Regions from separate parts of the Homo sapiens genome. Here regions 2 and 3 are each linked to region 1. Evidence: fine-mapped expression QTL. A gene starts in region 1. Each other region holds a variant in brackets. All regions are shown on one strand. Distances are from middle to middle. Region 1 holds the start of TAF1B (TATA-box binding protein associated factor, RNA polymerase I subunit B). Region 2 overlaps TAF1B (TATA-box binding protein associated factor, RNA polymerase I subunit B). Region 3 overlaps TAF1B (TATA-box binding protein associated factor, RNA polymerase I subunit B).

Evidence for each region. PIP is the estimated chance that this variant, and not a neighbour inherited with it, causes the effect.
Region 2: its variant is fine-mapped to the expression of TAF1B in subcutaneous fat (GTEx, PIP above 0.99).
Region 3: its variant is fine-mapped to the expression of TAF1B in monocytes (TOPMed, PIP 0.99).

The regions. Positions count from the first base shown.
Region 1 is chr2:9,839,342-9,847,524 of GRCh38, forward strand. It overlaps TAF1B (TATA-box binding protein associated factor, RNA polymerase I subunit B), which reads left to right and starts at 4,133. Exons shown (of 15, transcript NM_005680.3): 1 at 4,133-4,218; 2 at 5,879-5,977. The coding sequence starts at 4,201. RefSeq lists a silencer at 4,414-4,493.
Region 2 is chr2:9,924,470-9,932,652 of GRCh38, forward strand. The region is part of intron 14 of TAF1B (TATA-box binding protein associated factor, RNA polymerase I subunit B); the gene reads left to right. Among named protein-coding and RNA genes, the nearest start is that of GRHL1, 23 kb to the right of the region's middle. The variant A/G (reference allele first, on the strand shown) is at 4,802.
Region 3 is chr2:9,912,304-9,920,486 of GRCh38, forward strand. It overlaps TAF1B (TATA-box binding protein associated factor, RNA polymerase I subunit B), which reads left to right. Exons shown (of 15, transcript NM_005680.3): 12 at 856-946; 13 at 6,738-6,808; 14 at 7,295-7,517. Among named protein-coding and RNA genes, the nearest start is that of GRHL1, 35 kb to the right of the region's middle. RefSeq lists an enhancer at 5,125-5,626. The variant C/T (reference allele first, on the strand shown) is at 4,620.

The sequences.
Region 1 (8,183 bases):
TAGTTTGCTTTAATTATGTCTTTTTTTTTTTAATTTTTTTTAAAGACAGGGTCTCTGTCACCCAGGCTGGAGGGAAGTGTCATGATCACAGCTCACTGCAGCCTTGACTTCCCGGGCTGAAGCAATCCCCCCGACCCAGCCTCCTGAGTAGCTGGAACTACAGGCATGCCCACCACACCCAACTAAGTTTTAAAAAAATTTTGTAGAGATAGGATCTCTCTATGTTGCCCAGGCTGATCTTGAACTTCTGGGCTGAAGCAATCCTCCCACCTCGGCCTCTGAAAGTGCTAGGTTCTAGGCGTGAGCCACTGTGCTCAGCCTAACAATGTCTTCTGATGAATCGAAGTTCTTAATTTAATGAAATCCAGTGTAATGACCTTTTCTCTTAGGAGTAGTGCTTTTTGTGCCCTGTTGATGAAGTCTATTCCACACCAAATCATAAAGATATTTACCACTTTTTTTTTCTAGAAGCTTTATGGTTTTACCTATCACATGTAGGATCTATTTGAATTAATTTTTGTGTACAGTGTGAGAAAGGGGTCAATAATTTTCTCATATGCATGTCTGATTGATTCAGAACCATTTATTGAAAAACTATTCTTTCAGCTCACGCCTATAATCCCAGCACTTTGGGAGGCCGAGGTGGGTGGATCACTAGAGGCTATGAGTTCGAGACCAGCCTGGCCAACATGGCAAAATTCCATCTCTACTAAAAAATACAAAATTAGCCAGGTGTCATGGCACATGCCTGTAGTCCCAGCTACCTCTACTTGGGAAGCTAAGGCCCGAGAATTGCTTGAACCTGAGTGGCAGAGGTTGCAGTGAGCCGCGATTGTGCCATTGCACTCCAGCCTGGGCAACAGAGCAAGACTCTATCTCAAAAAAGAAACAAAGAAAAAGGAGAAAAGCTATTCTTTCCTCACTGAATTTTAGTAGCAGCTTTGTTGTAAATCAGATTATTTTATATGTACTTATGAGTCCGTTTCTGGACTTTCTATTCAGTTCTGTCAATTTTTTGGTCTATCCTTGCATCACACTAGATTACTGTATGATTTATTTTTTTCTCTTTTATTTATTTTTTAAATCTTTATTCTTTTTTCTCTACTTTTTCTTTTAACATTTTTTAATTTTGAGAAAAGGTCTTGCTTTGTCATGTAGGCTGGAATGCAGTGGCGTGACCACAGCTCACTGCAGCCTCAACCGATCCTCCCACCTCAGTCTCCTAGGTACCTGGGACTATTGGACTGTGCCACCACACCCAGCTAATTTTTTAATTTTTTGCAGAAATGAGGTCTCATTATGTTTCCCAGGCTGATCTCAAACTCCTGGGCTTAAGTGTTCTGTCCACCTTGGCCTTCCAAAATGCTGAGATTACAGGCTCGATGTTAAACAAACTTGCATTCCTAGAATAAACCTAACTTGGCTGTGATTTATTATCCTATTTATATATTGCTGAGTACAACAGGATGTACATTCAATTTACTGATGTTTTGTTTGGAACTTTTGCATGTATGTTTATGAGAGGAATTGCTTTTTAATTTTGACTTTTCTTGAAATATCCTTGTCAAGTTTTGGTGTCAAGGTCATGCTTGTCTCCTAAAATGTACTGGTAAATGCTCTTCTTTTTTCATTATTTGGAAGCATCTGTATAAGATGGGTGTTATTTATTTCTTTTTAAAATTATTATTATTATTGAGACAGAGTCTCTCTCTATCAACCAGGCTGGAGTGCAATGGCATGATCTTGGCCCACTGCAACCTCTGCCTCCCAGGTTCAAGCAATTCTTGTGCCTCAGCCTCCCAGGTAGCTAGGATTACAGGCGTGCAACACCATGCCCAGCTAATTTTTGTATTTTTAGTAGAGACGAGGTTTTGTCATGTTGGTCAGGCTGGTCTCGAACTCCTGGCCTCAAATATTCTCCTGCCTCAGCCTCCTAAAGTGGTGGGATTACAGGCGTGAGCCACCATGACTGGCCTATTTCTTTCTTAAAAATTTGGTAGAATTTGGCCAGGCGTGGTGGCTCATGCCTGTAACCCCAGTACTTTGGGAGGCCGAGGTGGGCAGGTCAGGAGTTCAAGATCAGCCTGGCCAATATGGTGAAACTCCATCTCTACTAAAAATACAAAACTTAGCCAGGTGTGGTGGTAGGCGCCTGTAGTCCCAGCTATTTAGGAGGCTGAGGCAGGAGAATTGCTTGAACCTGGGAAGCGGAGGTTGCAGTGGGCTGAGATGGTGCCACTGCACTCCAGACTGGGTGAAAGAGCAAGACTGTCTTAAAAAAAAAAATTGGTGGAATTTTCACATTTATTGGCCTAGAGTTGTTCAGAATATGCCCTTATGATCTTTTTAATGTCTGTGGTATTTGCAGTGATGCCCCTACATATTGGTTAGTGATGCCACTGATATCAGTTTATTTTGATTTTCTTTGCTCCGTTGCTCAGACTGGAGCACAGTGGCCCGATTATAGCTCACTGCAGCCTTGAGCTCAAGCAAACCTCCCGTCTCATCCTCCCAAGTAGCTAGGACTGTAGGTGTGCATCACCAAGCTGGGCTCTTTTCTTTTTGATCAATCTTTCCAGAGTTTATCGAATGTATTAGTATTTTCAAAGAGCTAATGTTAGTTGGTTGAGACTCTCTTCTTAAAAAATATCTTTTAGGCTGGGCGTGGTGGCTCACGCCTGTAATCCTAGCACTTTGGGAGGCCGAGGTGGGCAGATCACTTGAGGTCAGGAGTTCGAGATCAGCCCAGCCAACCTGGTGAAACCCCGTCTCTACTAAAAATACAAAAATTCGCCAGGCGTCGTGGCGCGTGCCTATAATCCCAGCTACTTGGGAGGCTGAGGCAGGAGAATTGCTTGAACCTGGGAGGTGGAGGCTGCACTGAGCTGAGATTGAACCATTGTACTCCAGCCTATAGAGATGAGGACTCAATATGTTGGGCAGGCTGGTCTCCAACTCCCGCCCTCCAGCAATCTGCCCGCCTTCGCCTCCCACAGTGATGGGATTACAGGCACCAGCCACCACAGCAAGCCTTTGTGGAGCCTATCGAAGCTTGCTTTCTCTTTTATTAATTTCTCTTTTTTAAACATTTCCTTCATCCCATTATTTTTCAGTTTAATCTTTTTTCTAACTTCTTGGGATGTACGATTATATCAAAAATCCTCTTCTCAATGAGATCTCTCTTGAACATCACATTTCAGACTGAAATCACCTTGTTGTTCCCATTCTCCTCTCCTCTTTATTTTTCTCCTTGGAACTCACCACCACTTAACATACCACATATTTTCCTTATTTATTTTTGTCTCTCCCCATCAGAATACAATCTCCATGAAGGCAAGGACTTTTGTTTACTTTGTTCACTGCTGAATCCCCAGGACACAAACCAGTTCCTGTTTAATAAATAAAACAAGGAATGAATGTGTTAGATGAAGAAACAATAAGAGCTAAATTTATTGAGCACTTACTGAGACTCAATTATATTCACTCATGCATTTATTTATTCAGTTATTTACTTATGCAGAGAAGGGGTCTCGCTTTGTTGCCCCGGCTGGTCTCCAACTCCTGGCCTCAAGCAATCCTCCCGACTCAGCCTCCCCAGGATTACAGGCGTGAACCAGCACGCCCGGTGGAGACTCAATTATAAGGGGCTCACAGATAACATCTAATTCTTACAGAGGAGTAAACTGAGGCACAAGTAAGCAGGAGAGCCGTGATTAGAAACCTAGGTCTAACTCACAGCCCGTGAGCTTTCCTCCAAGCCCCGAGGCTTCCCCTTAAAAAAGCCAGCAAGGGGCGAGACTCGGAGGGCAGAACCCACGGAGGGCGGAACCCACAGAGGACAGAGCCCGCGCTCGCGAGCACGGCCTTGTCCGACCCCCCGTGCCGCCGGAGGAGCAAGTCTGTCTTGGAATGAATGATCGTCGGAACGGAGCTTGATCAAACCACTCAGCAGTAGGCGTCGCCCACTTTCTTATTGGTTGGTTTTGGTTCTCAAGAGTAGGAAAGTTAGGTAGTCCGCGAGGGGTCTGCGAGCTTTGCGGAGCCTCGCCCCCGAGCGCGCGGTTTCCCTGCCGCGCAGGCGCACGGAATCCTAGGCGCGGATCTCGCGTTTCCGGCCGGAAGCTTCTCCAGCCTTTCCCGGAAGCTGCGCTCGCTACCCGGGTAACGGGTCCCGGCTGTGGAAGCTCCCGCGGCGCCGCGATGGACCTCGAGGAGGCGGTAAGGAGGCGGTGCACCTGGCGGGCCACGATCGCCGGGGCCGGAGGAGAGAGAAGCTGAGGAGGAGCGGCGGAGGACGCCGCGGGTTGGGGCGGCGACGCCACCGGCTGGAGGAAGGCGGGGCGGAGGGCTGCAGGGCGGGCTAAGGACTGGGGCTGGCCGGCCGCATGCGCGCGCGGCTTTGGTAAAGAGGCTGGAGTTTCTGGCTCGGCGAGGTTGTGGGGGAGGGAGGGTGTGGTGTTTGTCGTTATGGGTGTGTTTAAGGATGAAGCTGTGGGTTTTGTGGGGTGGCCACCCACAGGGCTCATCCTCGAGACTGGACCACCCACAAGTTCCCTTTAATGCTGGGGTGGGTGAGGGAGGGGCAGGGGTTGGAACCTGAGATGCCGCCGGGTAACCCCTGTCGGTCTCTCCGGGAATCCTTGCCACTGTCTCCAGCAGGGATTCTAAATTCGGGTTTGGGAACTCCCCAAATTGTCCAGCTATCATTCATCGTAGTGTTAGTACGGGGTCACTGAACACTTTACCAAGTTGCCAAAATTGATTTGGCATGCATTTTGTTTTGTTTTAGGTACTACGTAAAATGGCACATTTTTGTTTTTTATTTTTGAGACAAGATCTCACTTCTTCCCCCAGGCTGGAGTACAGTGGCACGATCACGGCTCACTGCAGCCTCGAATCCTGGGCTCGAGAGATCCTTCCGCCTCAGCCTTCCAATGAGCTAGGGCTACAGACATGCACCACCAAGCCCGGCTAATTTTTTTTTTTTTAATTTTTTGTAGGGGCAGGGGTCTCGCTATGTTGTCCAGACTGGTATTGAACTCCTGGGCTCAGGCGATCTTCCTGCCTCAGCCTCGCAAAGTGCTGGGATTATAGGGGTGATCCCCCGCCCTCGGCCAAATGGCACACGCTTTGATGGTATTAAATGATACTCGATAATTAGATCAATGCTAACAACAAGTCAAACTCCAAAGAGTTGGGGATCAGAGAATTAGGCCTGTATATACAGGAGCAGTACGGTCTTATAGTAGAGGCTTAAAAAATGTTTACTGATGATGGTTGGCTAACTTCTGTAAATGCTAGGCTGATGAAATGAATAATTGTAACTCACCATTAGCTAGCGTATACCCAGACTAGGGATCATGTCTGGTCTGTTTTGCTCACCATTGAATCCCCAGCACCTAGTAAAAAGCCTGGTACACACATAGTTGATACCCCTTATGCTGCCGAGTGAATAAATCGAAACTTGAAACCATTACAAATCTAGTTCCTCTGTGGTATGCGCTTTTAGTGTCCTGGAGGAGTTCCAAATTGTATTTGCATTTTTTAAAAGTCTTCTCTATACTTGTTTGTCATCTTCTCACAGTATTTTCAAGGAGCTTTGTTTACTCATCTTTGGTTCCAGTTTACCCCTACTACCTCCTTTTCTTTTTTTTTCCTGTCACACTGCATATTTCAATAAATTTTCTCCAGTAGTTTAATTCGGTTTCATACCGCGCCTCTCCTTGTTTGCGGATAATCTCTCTGACATATTTTTTATTGTCTATGATTTTTTATTAATAAAGTTGCCAGGAACCCATTAAATAGAACTGCAAGGTTTAGGTACGATGTATTGAATGTGGCTTGATGGGAACACCTTTTCTGTCCTCTTCTCCCATAGGAAGAGTTTAAAGAACGCTGTACTCAGTGTGCTGCTGTCTCATGGGGTCTTACTGATGAAGGCAAATATTATTGCACTTCTTGCCACAATGTTACAGAGGTAAGTAACAAATATCATTTATGAATTTGCTTATGTTTTAAAAATTGCCATTTCAGCCTGATATGTAGTCTAAGTCCCAAAGAATTGGGTTGATTTTTGTCACTCATGCAATGCCAACATTCCAAGGATGCATGTGGTCTTAGGTACTTACACATAGGTTAAGGGATTTGTGAATTAGATTGAGGATGAGTTTTTGAAATTATGTTGGGCCACATTTATAAATGATTTCTTATTCAGAGTATGTGGTTGAGGGAAATAATTAAAATTGTACTTAGAAGATGATGCATTTCTTTTTATCAGTTAGTACTTATTTACATTTTTTTAAATGTGTCATGGTGGCTTAGAGGTTTGGAAGATGGAATGTTAGAAAACTTGAGGACTGGGCCGGGCGCAGTGGCTTACGCCTGTAATCCCAGCACTTTGGGAGGCTAAGGCAGGTGGATCACCTGAGGTCGGGAGTTTGAGACCAGTCTGTCCAACAATGGGAAACTCCGTCTCTACTAAAAATACAACAATTAGCCAGGCGTGGTAGCATGCGCCTGTAGTCCCAGCTACTTGAGAGGCTGAGGCAGGAGAATCGCTTGGACCCAGGAGGCGGAGGTTGCAGTGAGACGAGATCACGCCACTGTACTCCAGCCTGGGCAGCAGAGCAAGACTCTGTCTAAAAAAGAGAAAGAAAGCTTGAGGACTGTTGGGAATATTGGAATTATTCTTCGTTATCCTTTTACCTTTGTATAGTACCTTACAGATTACAAAGTTTTTGGATCCATTATCTCATTTCCTCCTCATCACTAACTGTGAGAGCCTATTGATAGGGCTCAGAAGTTGAGTGAGTTTGCCAAAGTTACCCAAGTACCAGGACTTGAATGTGAGTCTTCTGACTTCAGTGTTCATTTTACCCATCACACCTGCCTCTTAAAGTAGAGATTGTCATATTGTCCTGTGTAACCTTGGTAAACGAGGCTACCTTCACATTGTGAGTGCTAGGTCCTATTGTGGTGAACACACCTTCGGGCCAGCATCACCAAAGTGATCAAGGGTGTAGAGAGTCTGCTGCTGGACAGGCTAAATGTGCCAGGACTCTCCTCAGTGGAAAAGGATTTCCTCAAAGTCTACAGATCCAGGAAGGAACAAATGTTACCTTCACCATACAGGCTTAAGAAAGGCAAATTTGGGACATTAAAAGTAACTGTGTAGACTTCTGCTTCTGGCTAAGATGGACTAACAGAGACCAGACTTACCTTTGTCCCCTAAACAATGAAAAACCTGGACAAAATATATTAAATGAGTAAAAGGAAAAACATTTTCCCTTGACAAAACTGGTGAATTGAGCTTGCAGGTGTGTCACACAAGTGCTTTTCCTTGAGGCAGTGTTCTTGAGTCTGCAGCTGGAATGCTTATCTCTGCTTCCTGTTTAGTCATACAGAATATTAAAAAGATATGTGCTCACTTGATGAAATTGTTGGGGTGATGGAGATATTTATTATCTTGATTATAGTGGTGGTTTCATGGAGATATATTTTGTGTGTGTGTCTGTGTGTGTCAGATTGTGCACCTGACAGATGTGCAGTTTGGTCCTCACCCTCATTGTGTAGTAAGGAGCTAGCAGTTTTACTCACTGTTGCTTTTGTACTATAGTGCAGGTGTAAACCCAGTGAAGAAAGATTATGTCTAATGGAGTATTTGCCATTAGTAGATGAAGTCAGCATACTATTTTTATAGGAATTGAACTACATTAACTAATTGCTTTTCTATTTTTGATTTTGATACTGTTTCCGTTTGATTCTGTTTGATCAAATCTGCTGCAGTCATTTTTTAGTTTGAAAGATCCTAATACTTCTCCCTAGCTCCACATTTGGAAGACTGTCAACTCCTGTGGAGTAATTTGTCAAGAATGTAGAGTTCATGAAGGTGGACAACATCTTTATAAAGACCAAGAACCTAGCTCAGTGCCTTCCTTTCAGACGACAGGCTTAAAGGAAAAAAAAGTTACGTGTTGCACAACTTCAGTAGTTATTCTTGGCTTTATGGCGGTCCAGGCATGTTCTTCACATGGACTGTGAGAATATAATGTGGTAGGGGCTCCCTGGAGCTGAGCAGTGTGGCGATGGTGATGTTGAAATACAGTGGGTGGGGAATGGCAGGTGAGACAGTTACAGCTGTGAAGAATGGAAGTCATGGTGCAACTTGCCCTATTTTTCTGCCC
Region 2 (8,183 bases), 85 kb after region 1:
GAGCTCCAGTCGCAGAGCCTGAAGTTCATGGCTCCATGCCACTAAATAAGGGGACCACATCCCTGCTTCAGCACAGCACCTGTCCTAAGACGCTGTGTGCCTTCGTGGTGGGTTTTATTAGCATGTTTTCTAATGTTTCTACAATAAAAACAGGCAACTGTAATAATATCATTGTAAAGGCTAAAATATGCCGAATATGCTCTAAGACAACCATTGAAAATGATTACAATGAAAAGTGATGCTTATGAGAGCAAATATTTAGCTATGTATCGAATTTTGTTAGGCAGAAGGACTCATTTCTGAGTGTTCAGAAGAAACAAAACATTTGCTGTAAAATTGTGAAAACACTCAGAGCTTGGGAACTAAGCAGAGAAAGGCCACAAGAGTACTTCAGGTATGGGAGGCTGTTTATTCTTCCTAGCTGAGGCAGAGTTAACAATTTCAATGAATTGAAATGCCCTTACTATTCCTCCAATTGTTATAACAGTTGGCTAGGTCAGAAGACCTGACTTCTTGTAGGTGGTGGCCGTCACCTCCCTGGGAGTTCCACAGATGAGGCAGAGCAGTGGTCTTTAGTTGTATTCCACAGGAAATGGAAGTGCTTTGGCAGCCCCACAAAAATGTGATTTTAATTTTTTAAAAATTATTTTTTAACTATTTTTTTAAACTATAGTGAAAAAACAGTACTCAGGCCGGGCAGGGTGGCTCACACCTGTAATCCCAGCACTTTGGGAGGCCGAGGTGGGCGGATTACGAGGTCAGGAGATCGAGACCATCCTGGCCAACATGGTGAAACCCCATCTCTACTAAAATACAAAAAATTAGCCGGGCATGGTGGTGCATGCCTGTAGTCCCAGCTACTCAGGAGGCTGAGGTAGGAGAATGGCATGAACCCGGGAGGCGGAGCTTGCAGTGAGCCAAGATTGTGCCACTGCACTCCAGCCTGGGTGACAGAGTGAGACTCCGTCTCAAAAAAAAGAAAAGTGTAAGTACTGTTATTTTTTTCCGTTTTACAGATGAGAGAACCAAGAGTAGTTACCCATAGTCACAGCTAATGGGTGGCAGAGGGTTTTGTTTGGTTGGTTGATTGGTTTTGGGTTTTTTTGTTTTGGGGTGTTTGTTTTTTTTTTGAGACAGAAGCTCGTTCTGTCACCCAGGCTAGAGTGCAGTGACACAATCTTGGCTCACTGCGACCTCCCTGGGTTCAAGCGATTCTTGTGCCTCAGCCTCCCGAGTGGCTGCTACTACAGACATGCGCTACCACCCCTGGCTAATTTTTGTATTTTTAGTAGAGACGGGGTTTCATCATGTTAGTCAGGCTGGTCTCAAACTCCTGACCTCGTGATCTGCCCGCCTCGGCCTCCCAAAGTGTTGGGATTACAGGCATGAGCCACTGTGCCCAACCAAGTGGCAGAGTTTTATGGTGCAAACATAGACATTCAGGAATTTAGGGCCGTATATATTATGTAAATCATAATATCTCAATGTCTATAGCTTCTATATGTTATTTCTTTACTTGCTTTTTAAAGTTGATAATGGGAAATTTCTGGTATACTCAGAAGTAGAGTAGTATAAAGAACCCCCCGTCTCTGTCACTCAATCTCAGCAACTGTGACATGGCAAGACTTGCTTCACCCAGGCTCCAGCTTACTCTACCCCTCTGCCCCCCATTATTTGGAAACAGATCTCAAACATCATATTTTTTAAAGTAAAACCATAATACCATTAATCAGATATAAAAAATTAAGTCATTTCTTAATATTCTCCAATATGCAGTCAGTGATTAGATTTTTCCCTATTGTCATAAAATTTTTTAAATGAGTTTAACTCAGAATCCAAATCAGGCCCATATATTGCAAGTGGTTGACATGGCTCATAAGTGTTTCAGTTCTTAAGGCCCCACCTCTTTATCTCTCTCTTTTTTCTTCTTACAATGTACTTACTGAGTAATCCTGGTCATGTGTCCCATACAATTTCTCATAGTCCAGATTTTGTGTATAGACAGTGCCATATGATGCCATCTAACCTCTTCCTCTATCCCTGGATAGCCTATATGTTGATGTAGTTAGTTTGAGATTGGCAGTTATGGCCAGGTGCGGTGGCTCATGCCTGTAATCTCAACACTTTGGGAGGCTGAGGTGGGTGGATCACCTGAGGTCAGGAGTTCGAGACCAGACTGGCCAACATGGTGAAACCCCATCTCTACTAAAAATACAAAAATTAGCCGGGCATGGTGGTGCATGCCTGTAGTCCCAGCTACTTGGGGGGCTGAGGCAGGAGAATCACTTGAACCTGGGAGGCAGAGGTTGCAGTCAGCGGGGTGAGACTCTGTCTCAAAAAAAAAAAAAAAAAAGAGAGATTGGCAGTTAACATTAGTTAGAGATTTGATCAGATTCAGGTTTAACTTTTTTTTTATATATATACTTTAAGTTCTAGGGTACATGTGCACAACCTACAGGTTTGTTACATAGATACATGTGCCATGTTGGTTTGCTGTACCCATCAACTGGTCATTTACATTAGGTATTTCTCCTAATGTTGTCCCTCCCCCTGCCCCCACCCCACGACAGGCCCCAGTGTGTGATGTTCCCCGCCCTGTGTCCAAGTGTTCTCATTGTTCAATTCCCACTTATGAGTGAGAACATATGGTGTTTGGTTTTCTGTCCTTGTGATAGTTTGCTCAGAATGATGGTTTCCAGCTTCATTCATGTCCCTGCAAAGGTCATGAACTCATCCTTTTTTATAGCTGCATAGTATTCCATGGTGTATATGTGCCACATTTTCTTAATCCAGTCTATCATTGAAGGACATTTGGGTTGGTTCCAAGTCTTTGCTATTGTGAATAGTGCCACAGCAAACATACATGTGCATGTGTCTTTATAGTAGCATGATTTATAATCCTTTGGGTATATACTCAGTAAGGGGATCACTGGGTCAAACTGTATTTCTAGTTCTAGATCCTTGAGGAATTGCCACACTGTCTTCCACAATGGTTGAACTAGTTTACAGTCCTACCAATAGTGTGAAAGCATTCCTGTTTCTTCACATCCTCTCCAGCACCTGTTGTTTCCTGACTTTTTATTGATTGCCATTCTAACTGGTGTGAGATGGTATCTCATTGTGGTTTTGATTTGCATTTCTCTGATGGCCAGTGATGATGAGCATTTTTTCATGTGTCTGTTGGCTGCATAAATGTCTTCTTTTGAGAAGTGTCTGTTCATATCCTTTGCTCACTTTTTGATGGGGTTGTTTTTTTCTTGTAAATTTGTTTAAGTTCTTTGTAGATTCTGGATATTAGCCCTTTGTCAGATGGGTAGATTGAAAAAATTTTCTCCCATTCTGTAAGTTGTTCACTCTGATGGTAGTTTCTTTTGCTGTGCAGAAGCTTGTTAGTTTAATTAGGTCCCATTTGTCTATTTTGGCTTTTGTTGCCATTGCTTTTGGTGTTTTAGTCATGAAGTCCTTGCCCATGCCTATGTCCTGAATGGTATTGCCTAGGTTTTCTTCTAGGGTTTTTATGGTTTTAGGTCTAACATGTAAGTCTTTAATCCATCTTGAATTAATTTTTGTATAAGGTGTAAGGAAGGGATCCAGTTTCAGCTTTCTACATATGGCTAGCCAGTTTTCCCAACACCGTTTATTAAATAGGGAATCGTTTCCCCACTTCTTGTTTTTGTCAGGTTTGTCAAAGATCAGATGGTTGTAGATGTGTGGTGTTATTTCTGAGGCCTCTGTTCTGTTCCATTGGTCTATATCTCTGTTTTGGTACCAGTACCATGCTGTTTTGGTTACTGTAGCCTTGTAGTATAATTTGAAGTCAGGTAGTGTAATGCCTCCAGCTTTGTTCTTTTTGCTTAGGATTGTTTTGGCAATGCGGGCTCTTTTTTGGTTCCATATGAACTTTAGTTTTTTCCAGTTCTGTGAAGAAAGTCATTGGTAGCTTGATGGGGATGGCATTGAATCTATAAATTACCTTAAGCAGCATGGCCATTTTCACGATATTGATTGTTCCTATCCATGACCATGGAATGTTCTTCCATTTGTTTGTGTCCTCTTTTATTTCGTTGAGCAGTGGTTTGTAGTTCTCCTTGAAGAGATCCTTCACATCCCTTGTAAGTTGGATTCCTAGGTATTTTATTCTTTTTGTAGCAATTGTGAATGGGAGTTCACTCATGATTTAGCTCTCTGTTTGTCTGTTATTGGTGTAAAGGAATGCTTGTGATTTTTGCACATTGATTTTGTATCCTGAGACTTTGCTGAAGTTGCTTATCAGCTTAAGGAGATTTTGGGCTGAGATGATGGGGTTTTCTGAATATACAATCATGTCATGTACAAACAGGGACAATTTGACTTCCTCTTCTCCTAATTGAATACCTTTTATTTCTTTCTCCTGCCTGATTGCCCTGGCCAGAACTTCCAACACTATGTTGAATAGGAGTGGTGAGAGAGGGCATCCCTGTCTTGTGCCAGTTTTCAAAGGGAATGCTTCCAGTTTTTGCCCATTCAGTATGATATTGGCTGTGGGTTTCTCATAAATAGCTCTTATTGTTTTGAGATATGTTCCATCAGTACCTAGTTTATTGAGAGTTTTTAGCATGAAGGGCTGTTGAATTTTGTCGAAGGCCTCTTCTGCATCTATTGAGATAATCAGGTGGTTTTGTCATTGGTTCTGTTTGTTGTTGTTGTTGTTGTTGTTGTTGTTGTTTAGAGACGGAGTCTCGCTCTGTCGCCCAGGCTGGAGTGCAGTGGCACAATCTCGGCTGACTGCAACCTCCGCCTCCCGGGTTCACGCCATTCTCCT[A/G]CCTCAGCCTCCTGTGTAGCTGGGACTACAGGTGCCCGCCTCCACACCTGGCTAAGTTTTTGTATTTTTAGTAAAGACGGGGTTTCACCGTGTTAGCCAAGACGGTCTCAATCTCCTGACCTCGTGATCCACCCACGTCAGCCTCCCAAAGTGCTGGGATTACAGGCGCGAGCCACCGTGCCTGGCCTTTGGTTCTGTTTATGTGATGGATTATGTTATTGATTTGCGTATGTTGAACCAGCCTTCCATCCCAGGGATGAAGCCGACTTGATCGTGGTGGATAAGCTTTTTGATGTGCTGCTGGATTCAGTTTTCCAGTATTTTATTGAGGATTTTTGTATCAATGTTCATCAAGGATATTGATCTAAAATTCTCTTTTTTTGTTGTGTCTCTGCCAGGCTTTGGTATCAGGATGATGCTGGCCTCATAAAAATGAGTTAGGGAGGATTCCCTCTTTTTTCTGTTGATTGGAATAGTTTCAGAAGGAATGGTACCAGCTCCTTGTTGTACCTCTGATGAGTTCGGCTGTGAATCCGTCTGGTCCTGGACTTTTTTTGGTTGGTAAGCTATTAATTATTGCCTCAATTTCAGAACCTGTTATTGGTCTATTCAGAGATTCAGCTTCTTCCTGGCTTAGTCTTGGAAAGGTGTACATGTCCAGGAATTTATTCATTTTTTCTAGATTTTCTAGTTTATTTGCATAGAGGTATTTATAGTATTCTCTGATGGTAGTTTGTATTTCTGTGGGATCGGTGGTGATATCCCCTTTATCATTGCATCTATTTGATTCTTCTCTTTTCTTCTTTATTAGTCTTGCTAGCGGTCTATCAATTTTTTTCATCTTTTCAAAAAACCAGCTCCCGGATTCATTGATTTTTTTAAGGGTTTTTTGTGTCTGTATCTCCTTCAGTTCTCCTCTGATCTTAGTTATGTCTTGCCTTCTGCTAGCTTTTGAATTTGTTTGCTCATGCTTCTCTAGTTCTTTTAATTGTGATGTTAAGATGTCGATTTTAGATCTTTCCTGCTTTCTCTTGTGGGCATTTAGTGCTATAAACTTCCCTCTACACACTGCTTTAAATGTGTCCCAGAGATTCTGGTATGTTGTGTCTTTGTTCTCATTGGTTTCAAAGTACATCTTTATTTCGTTATTTACCCCATAGTCATTCAGGAACAGGTTGTTCAGTTTCCAAGTAGTTGTGCGGTTTTGAGTGAGTTTCTTAATCCTGAGTTCTAATTTGATTGCACTGTGGTCTGAGAGACCATTTGTTGTGATTTCTGTTCTTTTACATTTGCTGAGGAGTGCTTTACTTCCAACTATGTGGTCAATTTTGGAGTAAGTGTGATGTGGTGCTGAGAAGAATGTATATTCTGTTGATTTGGGGTGGAGAGTTCTATAGATGTCTATTAGGTCCACTTGGTGCAGAGCTGAGTTCAAGTCCTGGATATCTATCCTTGTTAACCTTCTGTCTCGTTAATCTGTCTAATACTGACAGTGGGTTGTTAAAAGTCTCCCATTATTATTGTGTGGGAGTCTAAGTCTTTGTAGGTCTCTGAGGACTTGCTTTATGAATCTGAGTGCTCCTGTATTGGGTGCCTATATATTTAGGATAGTTAGCTCTTCTTGTTGAATTGATCCCTTTACCATTATGTAATGGCCTTCTTTATTTCTTTTGATCTTTGTTGGTTTAAAGTCTGTTTTATCAGAGACTAGGATTGCAACCCATGCTATTTTTGCTTTCTATTTGCTTGGTAGATCTTCCTCCATCCCTTTTTTTTGAGCCCATGTGTGTCTCTGCATGTGAGATGGGTCTCCTGAATACAGCACACTGATGGGTCTTGACTCTTTATCCAATTTGCCAGTCTGTGTCTTTTAATTGGGGCATTTAGCCCATTTACATTTAAGGTTAATATTGTTATGTGTGAATTTGATCCTGTCATTATGATGTTAGCTGGTTATTTTGCCTATTAGTTAATGCAGTTTCTTCCTAGCCTTGATGGTCTTTACAATTTGGCATGTTTTTGCAGCGGCTGATACCGGTTGCTCCTTTCCATGTTTAGTGCTTCCTTCAGGAGCTCTTGTAAGGCAGGCCTGGTGGTGACAGAATCTCTCAGCATTTGCTTGTCTGTAAAGGATTTTATTTCTCCTCCACTTATGAAGCTTAGTTTGGCTGGATATGAAATTCTGGGTTGAAAATTCTTTTCTTTAAGAATGTTGAATATTGTCCCCCGCTTTCTTCTGGCTTGTAGAGTTTCTGCCGAGAGATCAGCTGTTAGTCTGATGGGCTTCCCTTTGTGGGTAACCGACCTTTCTCTCTGACTGCCCTTAACATTTTTTCCTTCATTTCAACCTTGGTGAATCTGACAGTTATGTGTCTTGGGTTGCTCTTCTCAAGGAGTATCTTTGTGTGGTGTTCTCTGTATTTCCTGAAGTTGAATGTTGGCCTGCCTTGCTAGGTTGGGGAAGTTCTCCTGGATAATATCCTGCAGAGTGTTTTCCAACTTGGTTCCATTCTCCCCGTCACTTTCAGGTACACTAATCAAATGTAGATTTGGTCTTTTCACATAGTCCCATATTTCTTGGAGGCTTTGTTTGTTTCTTTTTACTTTTTTCTCTAAACTTCTCTCTTACTTTATTTCATTAATTTGATCTTCAATCACTGATACCCTTTCTTCCACTTGATCGAATCGGCTATTGAAGCTTGTGCATGTGTCACATAGTTCTCATGCCATGGTTTTCAGCTCCATCAGATCATTTAAGGTCTTCTCTACGCTGTTTGTTCTAGTTAGCCATTCGTCTAATCTTTTTTCAAGGTTTTTAGCTTCCTTGCGATGGGTTTGAACATCTGCCTTTAGCTCAGAAAAGTTTGTTATTGCCGACCTTCTGAAGCCTACTTCTGTCAGCTCGTCAAAGTCATTCTCCATCCAGCTTTGTTCCGTTGCTGGCAAGGAGCTGCAATCCTTTGGAGGAGAAGAAGTGCTCCAGTTTTTAGAATTTTCAGCTTTTCTGCTCTGGTTTCTCCCCACCTTTGTGGTTTTATCTACCTTTGGTCTCTGATGTTGGTGACCTACAGATGAGGTTTTGTTGTGGATGTCCTTTTTGTTGATGTTGATGCTACTCCTTTCTGTTTGTTAGTTTTCCTTCTAACAGTCAGGTCCCTCAGCTGCAGGTCTGTTGGAGTTTGCTGGAAGTCCACTCCAGACCCTGTTTGCCTGGGTATCACCAGTGGAGGCTGCAGAACAGCAAATATTGCTGCCTGATCCTTCCTCTGGAAGCTTTGTCCCAGGGGGCACCTGCCTGTATGAGGTGTCAGTCGGCCCTTACTGGGAGGTGTCTCCCAGTTAGGCTGCACGGGGGTCAGGGACCCACTTGAGGAGGCAGTCT
Region 3 (8,183 bases), 73 kb after region 1:
AGCCTAAGAGCAACTCAGTGAAGTGTGGTGAATATGTGGATTATTAAATTCAATTCCAGTTTCTTAATGTTCTGTTCTCATTAGGATTTATGTTCATTGGTTTTAGAGGCTTGAATTTATTGGAAGCAATCAGTTTGTGTGTTCTTTCCAGAATATGTGCAAAATAAAATACTACTTTCTGTACATTGCTCATGTTGGCTTCTATGTAGAGTGAAAGGTTGAACTAGCTGTCTTCTAACATCCCCTCTAATGCTAAAAGATGATAATTTACTACGTAGACATGTAGAATAAACAGAGCGCTTTGACCTGTCTCCCTGTAAGCCTCAAAATAAATCCATGCTGTCAGCAGGGCAAAGATCACTGTCATTTCTCTCTGCTCTGTCTGCTAATCACCATCCCCTGCCCCCAGCATTATTGATGGGGAGATTGAGGTTTAGAAAAGTTGTGATTTACTCCAGGTCCAAGAACCGTGAGTTCTATTGATTACTATAGTTTTCCTCTGTTCTTACAGTTCTTTCGGTAGTTTCCTCTCTTCTGTGGCTGTATGGTCTACAAGGTCATATTGGATTAAACAATTATCATATTGACCAGTTGAAAAGATTTTTAGTTAGGCATGGAAAGAGACTGCCTTCGCCAGAGAATAATGGAGAATAATCCCTGTATGGAGTGAAAGAGTGAGGAGTGAGTTTTTATACTTTACTGCATTCAGTTCTGTTGTCTCTCTAATGTCTACATCTTGATCACACACTCACACCAACTGCCCAGTGCAGTCAATTAATGAAAACTCAGATGAACAATGTATATTATTATAGTGTGGTTTATTTGGTTAATAATCTTGGATTTTATTTCTTTCAGATAAGCCATGGTTTGATTTCAGAAAGTGGTACCAAATTATGAAGAAAGCTTTTGATGAGAAAAAACAAAAATGGGAAGAAGCAAGGGCCAAGTATGTTCTCCTTCCTGGTTTAGATGCACCTGCCTTACTTCTGTGTCTGTTACTTTACATTTGAAAGCTGAAGCTTCATCAGTATACACTTATCTACATTGTGACTTTTTTTTCTGGAAATATTAGCCCTACACTCTAATTAACTTTTCTCTTTTTTACATTACTATTAATCAAAGTTTAGATTTGATGTGGATTTCACCAGTGTTTTTATTAATGTCCTCTTTCTGTTCCATGATCCAATGCAGGATACCACAGTATACTTTTTATAATTTAACTTTTTATAATTTGCATGAGACTTGCCTATATTTCTAATACTCCTCCCTCTTCCCCTTTCTCAAATTTAGTCATTTCTCATCTATGCTTCCCAATATTAAAAAGATTACAAATGTTACCTTGCAACATATGTAATTGGAATGTTCCCCCAAAATAAAGATCCCTGTGAAAATTAAAACAAAGGAAAGCAGATAGCAAGTCCATTTGATTCAGCCAGTGTCACTGCCTTTCTTTGAACTGTCATTCTGATGTGGGCTCATTGTGGTAGGGTAGAAGAGAGCATAAGCAGCGCTAGGTTTGAATCCTGTCTGCATTACAAGCTAGCTGTGTGCCCATGGGCCAGTTACTTAACCTTTTGCTGAGTCTGAGTCTCTTTGAGGCTTTGAAGAAAAAGGTAACATCTCTGTATTTAATGTAAATTTACAGTAATACTAATTCGACTCAGTAATTTTATATCCTTTGAGAAAAATCAAGGTTCCCCATATTAGTTGAAATGAGAATTTGTTCAGCTCCTATTTCTTCATCAGTAAAATAGACATAATAATGCCCACTTATATACTGTAATTAAGACCCAATTTTCCAGTATGAGAGTAGAACTAGATTATTTTTCCTCTAAATTTCAGAGGGCTTTTAAATAGAAAAACAGACTCTTGGGGTAGAAAAGGCACTGTGGAGATGATCCTTTCCATAGCAGGGAAGTGTGACAGGTTCCCTCTCAGTAGGCAGGATTGATGCACAATGAAGAAGAGGGGTGGAGGTGAATTTATCCCAACAGCCCATGGATTCCCAGGAAACCAGGCTCCCTGCCTCCTCATCAGAGAAGGAGTGACTCTTCAGTCAGTGGCTCTCAGTGGGCACAAGAATAGCAGCAGGAACAAGATTTTGTTATGTGTCTTAGGTCATTTTGGAGAATCAGCCTTCCTTTCTGTGGTGCTAGCTGGGGTTAGTCCTGACGGATCCTAAGGACTGGGTGCCTAGGGGCCATTCCTCCCTGGGGTCTCAGTGGTGACAGGGCTTTCCTTACCCCAAGCCAGACACCAACCTACACTTTAAACATAGCTCTTGGAGGCCCAGTTCATTATTGCAGTGTTATGTCAGTTGCACATTTAAGACTTACCGGCTTTTAGCTACTTTAGGGAATAATTTATTGGCCAAAGAAAGTAAGTCTGGTTATAAAATGGCACTTTCCAGGGAGGTACCGGGCCCCAAGGTGGAGGCTGTCGAGGGGACCCGTTTCCAAGGTCCTTCTTCCTAGAGTATGTGCTGAGGGCTGACACACACGTGCAGTGTGAGTCACTGCTGAGTAATATGCGAAGCACTACCAACTGCTGCTCAGGCCCAGAGCTCAGTGCGTGGTGGCCACCTGTCGGTTTCACCCTTCCCCACCCCCATGTTGACATACATGTCTAATTTTTCTCTTTGTTTCTCTGAATATTATCATCCATGTTGTCAGATGAAAATTATTAAAACATTTTCTATATCTGAGCATGGGTTCCTATGCATGAGATTATGAAAAACACTAATAAACAATAGTTGAAAACCTAAAACAGCGTAAGAGGCTACTTTGATGACTTCTAGCTGTTATAGAAGATGTTGAGAAGAACATGGAGAAAAATTAAGCCTGTGCAGAAAATCTCTATGCCCTAATTGGTGTATAGTGATATCTCATTATGGTTTTAATTTGAGTTCACTGCTAATTTTTGCCTTCCCTTTTGGGTTAGGCAGAAATTTCTTAGATGTGACACCAAAAGCATGATCTATAAAAGAAAAAAAATTGGTAAATTGGACTTCATCAGAAGTAAGAACCTCTGCTCCACAAAAGAACTTAAACGAATAAGAAGCTACAGACGAGGAGAAATTAAATGCAAATCACATATCCGTTTAAAGATTTGTATCTAGAGTATATAAAGAATTTTTAGGCAATAAGAAAAAAACTCCATTTTTTTAAATGGGCAAAATATTTGAAAAGACGTTTTACCAAAGATGATATCAAGATGGCATGTGAAAAGATGTTTAACATCATTAATAGGGAAATGCAAATTAAAACGACAATGACATATCATTATATACCAATTAGAATGGTTCAAAACAAAACAAAAACAAAAACTGATCATTCCCAGTGTGGGAATTCAAAATGGTACCGCTATTTTGAAAAGTTGTCAGTTTCTCAAAGTTAAACATACATTTATTATGTTATCCAGTGTTTTTCACTCCTAGATATTTACCCTAATGAAATGAAAACAAGCTCACACAAAAATCTGCATAGGAATGTTTCTAATGGTTTCATTCATAATTGCCAAAAACTGGCAACAAACCACATGTTCTTCAACTGGTGACTAGCTAAACTGTTGTATCCGTACAGTGGAATACCATTTAGCAGTACAGACTTCTTATGCATCCAGCAATATGAGTGAATCTTAAATGCATTATGCTATGTGAAAGACTCAAAAGGTTACTTATGCTATGATTCCATTTATATGACATTCTGGAAAAGGCTAAACTATGGGGACAGAAAAACAGACCAGTAGTTGCCTGAGATCAAGGGTTGACTGTCAAGGGATGTGGGAGATATTTTGGAGTGATGGAACTGTTCTACGTAGTAATTGTGGTGAGTACACACATGCAACTGTATGTGTTTGTCAGTGCTAGCAGAACTACACTGAAAAGAGTAAATTTTACTGAATGTAAATTATACCTTAATTTTTAAAAATGAGGAAACATATGCAGACAGACAAGAGAGAAATATATAGATAACATGTAACTGGAAAACATGGTTTGTGATGTGTCTCCTTTTGTAGTTTTATGTAATGAGAAAAGGCAGGCAAGGTAAAGTCAATTTTGGAAGAAGCTTTCATTTCAGGTATCTGAACACTTAAGAGTATTTTTATTTTAGATCACCTTTCCCATTCTTGGGGCATATCACCCCAAGGGCATCATAATGCTTTCTTGATCTGTGGCATGATTGCCACTTGTGTAGGCATTTACTGTAAATGCATAAGAAACTTCCATTTAGATTAGGTATTCACAAGGAATGTTTAACAGTGAGTGTGCCCAGGGATTGGGATTAGACTGTTCAGGGAACTTCTTTATCCTTTGAGATTTTATTATTTAAGAAAATTAATGGCAAAAAAATATATTTTAAAGAATCGCTAACTCATTTACCATAACATTAAATGACAAACTCTCTGATATATTTTAAATGTGGTATGGTTCACTAAAGTTTAGTTTCACATGATTTTCAGGAAACCATCTCCTGTATAACATTAATTACATCTCTACTGCTACCTAATGATTAGAAAAATTTCCTTTCTGTTCTTTTTTTTTTTTTTTTTTGAGATGGATTTTTGCTCTTGTTGCCCAGGCTGGAGTGCTGGAGTGCAATGACACGATCTCGGCCCAC[C/T]GCAACTTCCGCCTCCCGGGTTCAAGCAGTTCTTCTGCCTCAGCCTCCCAAGTAGCTGAGATTACAGGCATGTGCCACCATGCCCAACTAATTTTGTATTTACTAAAGAGACGGGGTTTCTCCATGTTGGTCAGGCTGGTCTCAAACTCCCAACCTCAGGTGATCCTCCCACCTCAGCCTCCCAAAGTGCTGGGATTACAGGCATGAGCCACTGCGCCCGACTCCTTTCTGTTCTTAACATTTAATATCATTGCAGAAATTCAAAATAAAAAGTCAACATCTGTTTTATGTATAGTCATGATTTTACTGACTTGATCAAGTATTTTTTAAAATTCTTGAAAAAATCAGTTCTTAAATCGGTTAAAATGATTATTTGCTAAATGATATTACTAAAATATTGTTAAAAATGTGTGCTTTTATATACGTATTACTTCCTAGTATTAAAAATAAATGGTGAGAAATTATTATAGATGCTACAGATTTTTAAAATATTTGTATTTCTGGCTTCCTATTTTTAATCTGTTTTTCTGGAAAGTTCACAGATATTTCTTGAGTATCTACTAGCCAGGCACTTTGTCAAGTACTAATAATAATTCTAATTATTGTATAGGATTTAAAGAACCAATACATACAGCATCTTATTCTTCAGAATAACCCTGTGAAAGTAGAGGATAAGTTTAGAGATGCTAAATTCATTTCTTTGTTCATTTATTCACCCAATTATTCTTCAACAAATGTTTAAATGAGTTCCTACTCTCTACCACTCCCTGACAACACTAGGGGCATAAGGATGGCTGAGACAGTCTCTGCCTTTAAGAACCTCCATAATTTGTCATTCAAGGTCATGCCACTAGAAAATGGTGGAGCCGGCCGGGCGCGGTGGCTCACGCCTGTAATCCCAGCACTTTGGGAGGCCGAGGCGGGCGGATCACGAGGTCAGGAGATTGAGACCATCCCGGCTAAAACGGTGAAACCCCGTCTCTACTAAAAATACAAAAAATTAGCCGGGCGTAGTGGCGGGCGCCTGTAGTCCCAGCTACTTGGGAGGCTGAGGCAGGAGAATGGCGTGAACCCGGGAGGCGGAGCTTGCAGTGAGCCGAGATCCCACCACTGCACTCCAGCCTGGGCGACAGAGCGAGACTCCGTCTCAAAAAAAAAAAAAGAAAATGGTGGAGCCAGGTCTTCTGATTCAGTACTCTTTCTTGTTGCCACAGTGTCTTTCAAAATAAGAAAATGGCCTGGGATTAAGAAGAAGGTGGATTTTTAAAATTATTATAAGTTATGAAAGTTCTCTGCTCTAGGGAACACAGAAATAATAAAAATGAGACCAAGAATGAACCTTGTTGTCTTTGTTCCAGAGCAGCAGCGTCTGCTTGGCAAAGTTTAGCAACAGCCACTAGAACTAGAAATAGAACATGTCACTTCCTTTTGGAGTCTGGAACTGATCACCCTCATCTGTAGGAACCTTAGATGGCTCTTAGTGTTTGTCCTGGAGGGAACCCCAAGAGCCAGAGCAATCCAGGATCCCCATTTTACAGTGGAAACTCCCTGGCCATCCTTCCCTTGGCAAGAATAGGCTGAGTCAGAACAGGGACTACTGGGACTGTGTCATCCTGGAATCCAGTCTTTTCCTCTCCTTTACACCAGGAATAGAATAGATTTCCTGGCATCAGATGCCAGAGAGACGCATTTACTGTTCACTGTGTGTAAGTTATCAGAATCAGAAGTACTACTAACAACTCTCAGCAAAAAGGCATTGGGACAAAGGCAATGAGGAACAGTTGTTTCTGAGGTAGCTTCACTTTATGAGAATGAGCAGCAAGGGAAATTTATGGTGAAGGAAACAGTTTCTATGTTTTTTGTATAATTAATAGCTTCTTCAAGATGTCACAGCATCTGGGTGGCTTTTGAGAGGAGCACACCATTCTCTTGGCCTGGGCTGTTGGTCAGTGGTTCCTTCTAGGGCCTAAGTTCAATAGGCAATATAGACATGTGCCAGTAGGCCATTCCAAGCCAGAGCTATAACGAAATATCAGAAATCTCAGATAGTGCTTCAGACAATGTGTTTATGTCCGTTTCATCTCCGTCCTGCTCCAGCTGTTTCTTTACCTTGTACAGGTACCTGTGGAAAAGTGAAAAGCCACTCTACTACTCATTTGTCGACAAACCAGTAGCATATAAAAAAAGAGGTAAGTCAAATTTTGTCTTTTTAATACCAAGTAGCAACACAGTTGTAGAAAAATTAAATATCTGGACTTGAAATGTTGAATGCTTAAGTTTTTTACTTTTTTTAAACAAATGTTCCAGGGCACATGTACATCCAAAGGAGCATCATACTCTGCAAGAAATCTCTGCAGGAATCTACTTCAGGAATATGTCGTTCTTCAAAACAGAGCCTCAGTTCCTGCCAAAATCTAAAATCCTAAATCGTTATGATTTTGGAAATTCTTTGCTTATAGAATTCCTTTTAGACTGTACATTCTTTTTGAAGTAAGGTTTCCCCCATGCACCTCATCCAGTTTCATTTTCCCTTAACGTTATCCTGTTACATTACTGTGGTACATCTGCGAAAACTAAGGAACCAATATTGGTACATTCCTATCAAGTAAATTCCAGGCTTTATTTGTGATTTAACATTACTTGTTATTTTGTTTCCTTTTTTTCTCCGGTTCCAGAAATGGTGGTGAATCTACAGAAACAATTTAGCACACTGGTCGAGTCAACAGCAACTGCTGGAAAAAAAAGCCCTTCAAGTTTTCAGTTCAACTGGACTGAAGAGGACACTGATAGAACGTGTTTCCATGGACACAGCCTTCAGGGAGTCCTGAAAGAGAAAGGCCAATCACTGCTGACTAAGAATTCATTATATTGGCTTAGTACACAGAAATTCTGCAGATGGTAATAATGCTTTTAGAAAAAGTCACATATAATTGAAGTAGTTGACTGTATAAGAGCCAGATAGGTTTTTTGTTGGAATTAGAAGCTGGTGAGCTTAAAGTCACGAAAATCAGAATTATACATTGAGTCTTGTGTAGGAGTTCTAGGAAAGCTGGTAAAAATCAAGAAAGAGGATACAGGGCAATTAGCACAAACTATCCCCTCTAGCTAAATTAACCTGCAGTGTGGCAGGCAAGCAATAGAAGTGGCTGTAAATGCTGATCAGGAGAATGTGCTGTATTTTTTAGTACATATCACTTCTCTGAGTCAGTTACCTTTATCATGTCTTTCTACCTCTTAATACTTCCTTAAGTATTTCCTAAAAATAAGGATATTCTCTTAAGTGACCACAGTACAGTTATCAAACTCAGGAAACTTAATACTGATACGATACCTTTATCTCACCCACAGTCCATATTCCAATTTTCTCATTAGACCCCCAGTGTCCTTTTATAGCAGGATCAAGTTCAGGAGTAGGTATGGCATTGATTGATTTTATCTCTTCGGTCTCCTTTAATCTGATTGTCCCTCAGCCTTTCTTTGTCTTTCATGACATTGAGCTGTATTTTTCAGAAATGTCAGTGATGTTACACAATGTTTCTGAGTATGGTTGTGATGGTTCCTCAT